2 linked regions of the Homo sapiens genome follow. The protein of the gene in region 1 interacts with the protein of each later gene in a pairwise test. Each region holds a gene or a part of one and is shown on either strand. Other genes may lie near its edges.

Evidence for each region.
Region 2: the proteins of MAP4K2 (region 1) and NACAD interact in a two-hybrid assay, tested with the Homo sapiens proteins (one large-scale study listed by BioGRID and IntAct).

What each region holds. Positions count from the first base shown.
Region 1 is NC_000011.10:64,792,983-64,796,783, reverse strand, and holds part of MAP4K2 (mitogen-activated protein kinase kinase kinase kinase 2), read left to right. Parts: intron 1-70; coding exon 71-150; intron 151-230; coding exon 231-291; intron 292-393; coding exon 394-511; intron 512-3,801. UniProt on the Homo sapiens protein: Serine/threonine-protein kinase which acts as an essential component of the MAP kinase signal transduction pathway.
Region 2 is NC_000007.14:45,085,892-45,090,164, reverse strand, and holds the start of NACAD (NAC-alpha domain-containing protein 1), read left to right. Parts: upstream 1-1,195; 5' UTR 1,196-1,270; coding exon 1,271-1,337; intron 1,338-4,052; coding exon 4,053-4,273. UniProt on the Homo sapiens protein: May prevent inappropriate targeting of non-secretory polypeptides to the endoplasmic reticulum (ER).

The sequences.
Region 1 (3,801 bases):
GAGCCCAAGGAATCCCTCAGCTTGGGCCAGGGGCCATGTCTGACCTCTGACCCCATGCCCAAACTGGCAGACCAGTTCCTGGTGGTAGGGGCCGAGGAAGGCATCTACACACTCAACCTGCATGAACTGCATGAGGATACGCTGGAGAAGGTGAGGCCCGGCTGGCTGTGGGGGGCAGAGGCCTTGTGGGGGCCTGGGGTGCTGACCATCTGTCCCTCTGTGGCCTCCAGCTGATTTCACATCGCTGCTCCTGGCTCTACTGCGTGAACAACGTGCTGCTGTCACTCTCAGGTACAAGGTGGGATGGGCAGGGAGGCAGGGTCCGCAGGGGCTCCAGCGCCTCAGCATCCTGCCCACCAACACCCCAGGCCTGGCCTCTTCCTGTTTCTGCAGGGAAATCCACGCACATCTGGGCCCATGACCTCCCAGGCCTGTTTGAGCAGCGGAGGCTACAGCAACAGGTTCCCCTCTCCATCCCCACCAACCGCCTCACCCAGCGCATCATCCCCAGGTCAGGGATCTTGGGCGTGCAGGGAGCGGGAGGCAGAGGGGCAGGGAGGGGCTGGAACATGGCCTTGCCAGTTCCTGGGATTGCAGCAATCTTAGACGTGTTGTCTCTCTGAGCGCCCGTTTCCTCCTCTGTCAATACAATTGATGGCCTTCCCACCCCCTCCCGCCGGCTTGTTGGGAGGCAAGAAGGAGACAGTGGATGTGAAAGTGCTTTCCAAGTTGTAGGAGCTGTGGTTGTTCGGATGTGGGGCTTGACAGTTAAGCAAACGTTTACTGAGCACTTATGCTATGTTGGCCCCTATGCTGGGCTTCGGGACATGGAGAATCCCATGAGTCCTCGCTTTCAAGAAATGGGGGAGATGGGCAAGTCCTTGCTTTCAAGGATTCCCATGAGTCCTTGCTTTCAAGGATTCCCATGAGTCCTTGCTTTCAAGAAACAGCGGGGCTGGGTGTGGTGGTTCATGCCTGTAATCCCAATCCTGTAATCCGAGGCAGAAGGATTGTGTGAGGCCATGTGTTTGAAATCAGCCTGAAAACACAGGGAGACCTTGTCTCTACAAAAAATCAAAAAAGTCTGGGCGGGGGGGCTCACGCCTGTAATCCCAGCACTTTGGGAGGCCAAGGCGGATGGATCACGAGGTCAGGAGATGGAGACTATCCTGGCTAACATAGTGAAACCCCGTCTGTACTAAAAATACAAAAAAAATTAGCCGGGCGTGGTGGCACATGCCTGTAGTCCCAGCTACTCGGGAGGCTGAGACAGGAGAATCGCTTGAACCTGAGAGGCAGAGGTTGCAGTGAGCCGGGATCACGCCACTGCACTCCAGCCTGGCCGACAGCAAGAGTCTGTCTCAAAAAAGAAAGAAAAAAAGCCCAAAAAATCAAAAAATGGGGCCAGGCGCAGTGGCTCAGGCCTATAATCCTAGCACTTTGAGAGGCCGAGGTGGGCGGATCATGAGGTCAGGAGTTTACGACCAGCCTGGCTAATATGGTGAAACCCCGTCTCTACTGAAAATACAAAAATTAGCTGGGTGTAGTGGTGCGCACCTGTAGTCCCAGCTACTCGGGAGGCTGAGGCAGAAGAATCACTTGAACCCTAGAGGCAGAGGTTGCAGTGAGTGGAGATTGCACCACTGCACTCCAGCCAGGGCGACAGAGTGAGACTGCATCTCAAAAAAAAAAAAAAAAAAAATCGAAAACTTAGCTGAGCATGGTGATGTAGGCATGGCGTTGTGTGTTGGTGGTCCCAGCCACTCAGGAGGCTGAGGTGGGAGGATTGCTTGAACCCAGGAGGTTGAGGTTGAAGTGAACTGTGATCGCGATCGTACCACTGCATTGAAGCCTGGGCAACAGAGCAAGACCTTGTCTCAAAAAAAAGAAAAAGGGAAATGTGGACAGTTAGCAGCCGGTACTGAGGTCCAGTTAGAGGGAGAGCTGGGAGGTGTGGAGAGGCCTCAGAGACCGGGCAAGCTTGGGAGGTTCGAAAGTGTGTCAGGGTTTCTAGGCAGGTGAGGTAGGGAATGGCACTCCAGGCAGGGGGAAGAGCAAGTATATGTTAGTATGTGTTGGGGCGGAGCAGCCTGGTGAGCTGGGGAGCTGTTAAGAGTTTGCCTGGGGGCCAGGCACAGTGGCTCACGCCTGTAATCCCGCACTTTGGGAGGCTTTGGCGAGTGGATCAACTGAGTCAGGAGTTCGAGACCAGCCTGGTCAACATGGCGAAACCCCGTCCCTAGTAAAAATACAAAAATTAGCCGGGCATGGTGGCGGGCGCCTGTAATCCCAGCTACTCGGGAGGCTGAGGCAGGAGAATAGCTTGAACCTGGGAGGCGGAGGTTGCAATGAGCCGAGATCGCACCATTGCACTCCAGCCTGGGCAACAGAGCAAGACTCCGTCTCAAAAAAAAAAGAAAAACAGAAGAGAAAAACAGTCAGATTCTGATTCTCTTTTGCAAGTTGAGCCAGTAGGATTTCCTGATGAAAGAGAAAGAGGAGTCAAGGATGGCTCCAAGGTTTTTGGCCTGGGTGTCAGGAAGAATGCAGCTGTCATCAGCTGAAGGTGGAGCAGTTTCAGGGGGAGCTGAATTCAATTTTGTTGCATGAACATGCTTATTAGATGTGCAAGTGGGACCTGCGTCAGTCCATGGCTTGGTGGGGCTGGGCTCTGAAGGGAGGGGCCCTGGGCTATGGGCCCCCGACATTGTCATGACCAGGTGGGTGGTGTGGGAAGCAGTGGACTGAGTGCAGAGGGTAGGGGAGGCCAGGCCAGTGGCTGCAACAGCTGGGGAGCTCAGGAGCCCCCTTCCTGCAACGTGCTCACTCCAGGACCACATCTGGAGCCCGGTGGCCTTGGGGCTTCCTGAGCTCAGTCCCCAAGTGAGTCTGCTTTGGCGCAGGACCTACAGGAAACAGGCCCATCAGAGCCCCAACAGGTCACAGGCAGCTTTGAGCTTGTGTTCGGGAAATGGCAGAGGCACAGTGAGCACTTTGAATGCAAAGAACAGAGAACTGGAGTTGTTTGGAGAAAAAACAAATACAAAATATATGCTTTTGTCCCATCCAAAGACCAGATGGGGAGGAGAGTGGGAGGAATGTGGGGAGAGGGAGGGACGAGGACCAGGGACAGTGAGAGACAGACATTGGCTTCCTCCATGTCCTGGCAGAAGGTACAAACAGGACATGGGCCACTGGGTGGAGGTGGCAGGGCTGCTGACAGGAAGCCCCATTCCCCAGAGGAAGAAACAGGCTGAGAGGGTCCCCTGGAGGGTTAGGGGACACTCAGTGGCCAAGGCAACGGCCCCTCTGATAACTTTTCCTCACTACTTCTACCCCGACAGCAAGGCAAGCCACCCCCTGGCCCCACAGGGCTGTTGCCTCTGCTGGAGAAGCAGAGGGCAGGCCATTTGCCTTTTGAAGTTCATTCACTGCCCCGGGCCTGTTTTCCCATCTGTGAAATGGGCCGTGTGCAGTCTGTGCAACCTGGTGGGGCTGGAGCCTGCATCCTCCCCAGCCCCTCCATGCTCTCATTTCTTCATTCCTTTTTTCTTTTTCTTTTTTTTTGAGACCGAGTTTCACTCTCATTGCCCGGGCTGGAGTCCGATGGCACAATCTCGGCTCACTGCAACCTCCGCCTCCTGGGTTCAAGCAATTCTCCTGCCTCAGCCTCCCAAGTAGCTGGGATTACAGGCACGCGCCACCACGCCTGGCTAATTTTGTATTTTTAGTAGAGACAGGGTTTCTCTATGTTGGTCAGGCTGGTCTCGAACTCCCGACCTCGGGTGATCTGCCTACCTC
Region 2 (4,273 bases), on another chromosome or scaffold:
TATTTCTTGCCTTATAAAATGAGTTAGGAAGTGTCCCCTTCTCTTTTGTTTTCTGGAAGAGATTGTTTGAAGTTGATGTTAATTCTAATGGTGTGGTGTGTCTGACTCCTGGGGTACAGCGGGGAGAGATGCCCAGCAGGCAGCCAGGTGTGTAGCACTGAGCCTTGAGGCAGGTCTGGGGGAGTCAGAGGGCAGCCCCTGGCTTCATGAGCTCAAAGTTAGAACCCACAGAAGACTGAGGATGTTGAAACCTCCCTCCCTGCCTGTGACAATGGCTACTCTGATTCCCCCCACCCCAGTCAGGGGTGATGACAATGTCTCATTCATCTGTCTCCCTGGTGCCTGGCACGGGGGAGGAGGGGTGCTCAGTGAATCTGGGTGGCGCAGTAGCCTGTGTGAAAGCAAGAGGCATTTCAGGAAATTCACGGGGCGGGCTTCCTCCTGGGAGGTGTGGCAGAGGGTGCTGCCAGGAATAGAGGGAAACACTTTCTTCCTTTTCCTTCTACTGCCTAGTGTGGGGGTGGAGGGGAGATGATAGGACAGATCACCGAGTTGCCTAGAGACCTGGAGACCGACCCATCCGGGTCGCCTTCCCTGGTGCGCTCTCGTCGGCTCCATCCCTGGTTGCCATGGAGACAGGAGGCGGTTGCCACGGAGACCGACGACTGCCAGGACCAGCCAATCACTCCAGAGCTGCAGCTCCAGCTCACCTTTTGCATGGAGGCATCGGGCTGGGCGGGGCCCCCTCCCTCCCCAGGCCCTGCACCCTCTGCTTGGTCAGCGGGGAAGGAGGCTGCGCCGCCAACTCCACCCAAAGCGCTCCGAGCATCCCAGAATCCCAACCACCTCCCCAGCCTCCCACAACCAGGGTTCTAGGGGCGTCCCCGCCTCTTCCTGGCCACGGGCGAATGCCACCCTGAGGCAACCCAGCTTCCAATTGGCCCTGAAACCCTCCCTCGTAAATGCTGTGGAAAGGGTGGGACCGGGCGCAGGCGCCCACCCCCGCTCCCCCACGAAACCGCCCACAGCGAGAGGGAGGCCACAGCCGGGTGGGGTGGGGGCGGGGAGGGAGCCCCCCCTACGCCCTCCGCAGTGCCTGGCGAGCCCGCGCACGCTCACTCGCTGGGACAGGCGGGCGGGGCGGCCTGACGTCACCCACTGCCCCCACCGCCCGGCCGAGGGGCGGTGGCCGCGCAGGCTCGGCGGGGCGGCGGCACGGACTGACGGAGGGTCGGAAGGACTGAGGGACGGGCGGGCGCACGGCCAGGCCATGCCTGGGGAGGCTGCCCGCGCCGAGCTGCTGCTGCCCGAGGCGGACCGACCCGGGCCCCGCACAGGTGAGGCCGTGGCCACTCTTTCCCTGCCTTCAGCCTCTCCCCTCTCCAGCCCGGGTTCTCTTTCCATCGCTCACCTTTCACCCCTCTCCCCCATCCCCCTGGCCCCCCTCGAGTCCCCTCCCCTTTCCGCGCCCTGTCCTTCCCTCCATCTGAACCCTGCTACCGCCTCTCTCAGAACTGCGGGGAAGGTGGGGCGCACGAAGTGCCCGCCGCGAGCCAGAAAGAACGTGGGGGCTTAAGCCCTTGGCTTCCGACCCAGGGATCGTGGGGCTCGCATCCCGCCCGCTGCATCCCGTTGTTTGCACCGAGCTGCCAGCCTGCTGGGGCTGGGCCGCTCTGGACAGAGGCAGCGGGTTCTGGAGGCGGGGTGTCCGGCTGATACCCCCAGTACGATCAGGTGACCACCGGGAGGGTCCTCAGTTGCACCCGGTCTGTCCTGGGCCGGCGACTGGTCATGGCTCTGGAGGGAGGAGCAGGACTGGCCAGAGCCTAGGAAGCCCGGATGGAGGGCCAGGTGGTGGAATAAAGCCTAAGTTGGGTCTGGAAGGTGGAAGGCCTTGGGGGAGGTGGCCTGATTAGCAATGGCCCTGGGTGTGCAGACCACCTGTCCTTAGGCTGGGTCAACAAATGCTGGTGGAGGCTGATGGGGTCTACGGGGCCTAGAAAGAGCCGAGCCTGGACAGTCCTGGCGTGGAGGTCAGCCATGTGTGGGTAGGGCCAAGGGCACCTTGCTGTGGGCAAGAAGTCACCCAGAGATGGGACCACTGCTGGGGCCTGGGGCCTGGTTTGGGGTGACACAGGCTGCTGCCTCTGCTCTAGGTGGGAGGCAGGGAGTGCAGGCCCAGACTTCCCAGCCCCAGGGTCTTGTGCTGGCTCTGTTCTGGCTTGCTTGGTGACCTTGAATGAGTTATAAAAACCTTTGGCCTTTGGTTTCTGCTCCATCCCAACAGCTCAGCCGTTCCCCTGCCCTGGGGGCCACACCAGGGGCCAGAACCAAGAGCCCAGCTTCAGGGCACCCAGTGATGCCCCACCAGCCACGCCCACTCCTGATGTTGGGTGTCAGGCATGCAAGAACCCAAAGGACCCCCTTGTCTCAGGACCCCCTGGATGTCCCATCACCCCAGCAGCAAAGCCCTTGGGTGACAAGTTTTGGCTGGTGGTTCAGGGCTCAGGGCTCTGATGCTGCTGAGGGGAGCTGGAGCAGCCTGGCAACAGGGTCCCCCTTCTTTCAGCTTCAACTCTAATCCTGGCTCTGCTTTGTAGATGAGAAAGCTGAGGTGCAAGAGATGTTGTCCTGGTCACCAGTGAGTGCGGGAGAGCAGGAGCCACCAGGCAGGCATCTGCAGCCTGGAGAGCTGGCCCCTGTGTGCCGCCGCTCCCCCACCTTGGGCAAGACCTGGCCTGGGCTCTGAAGGGCCTTCATTGGATGCTTCAAACAGAGGTGCCTTTGGCCTAGGTCCAAGTGAGGGAGTGGACATAATGGAGACATTTAAAATGAAGCTTATGAGCATTTAGAGCACACAGGAAAATGCTTATGAGATTAGGTTGGGTGAAAATAGCTAGATTCAAAACTGAATGTGCAATGTGATCTCGCCTGTGATAAAATACAGGCCAGTAAGAGTCCAGGAGGCAGAAAACCATAGCGGTCTGGTGTGCCGCAACCTCGGAGGGGTTTTCTTCCATCTTCCTGAGTCCCCTAAGTCCTTTCTGACCCATGAGGGCTACTTCCTATGGACTCCTTTCTCAGCTGGAGGTGTGTTAGCTCACAGACGTTTACTGAGTACCAGAGCCTCCTCATACTGAAGCCTGCCCAGCGGGTTGGGGGAGTGCATCATGGGACCCAGAGAAGGCCCACAGGGCAGGGTGGGAACTCCCAGCACCCGGGAAGGAACTGGTGGTCACCCATGGGGTGGCTGCCACCAAGGAGAGGACTCAGCCAGAGGCTGCTGTTGGCCCTCTGAAGCTGTCCTGTGCTCTTGCTGGGCTCCATGGTCTCCGTTCCTGCCCACCACTGCCCTTGTGGCCAGATGCTCCAGCAAAGCCTCCACGGGACACTTCATCTCTGTTCTCCAGAAACTTGGCTGCGTGTGGTGGCCCCTGGCTTCCCCATCTCCCTGGGTGCAGGAGGGGAGCAGGGTCAGAGGGGCCTGGTGAAACCCTGACATGTTGGCCTCAAGTGTAGGTAGCAAGGACAGCAGAGAGAGGAGGCAGAGCGAGGCATGAAGCCCAGAGTGTTCGAGCTGCGCGCGTCGTGCTGGTGCCACCTGCCTCATGTGGCGCATCTATTGGGAGGTCATGGGATGGGACTGGCACTGCCTGGCAGATTCCCACCACCAGCCCCTCCCACCGAGCCCAGCTGAACCACACTGATTCTGTGGAATGGAAACTGCAATCCAGTCTCCCCAGAGAGGCTGAAATGCTAGTTCTTTGCTGAGGTGTCCTTGAGAAAAGCCGCCAGACAGGTCTGTTCATGACTCCCAGCAACACTTCCCTCAAAACCCCTCTCTAGGAAACCACTAGCATCTGCTCTCTGCTGTCAAAACTCCTGGAAGTTCTCCCTCAAACGCAGCGTGCAGAGGGTCTTCTCTTTTCTCTCCTGCCTTCCTGGATCCACCTTCCTCTGGGCCCTATGCAGCCGGAATTCATCTCCCCGGGCCTGGCCCTTGCCTGGGAGATGCATCCAGGGGCACCTCATGATCTTCTCTATCTCCACAGATCTGTCCTGCGATGCGGCCGCTGCCACCACCATCCTGGGAGGGGACCGGCGGGAGCCCTGTGCTCTGACCCCAGGGCCCAGCCACCTGGCCCTCACGTTCCTGCCCAGCAAGCCGGGTGCCCGGCCCCAGCCCGAGGGAGCCAGCTGGGATGCAGGGCCTGGTGGGGCACCCTCGGCCTGGGCGGACCCAGGGGAGGGCGGCCCAAGCCCCATGCTCCTC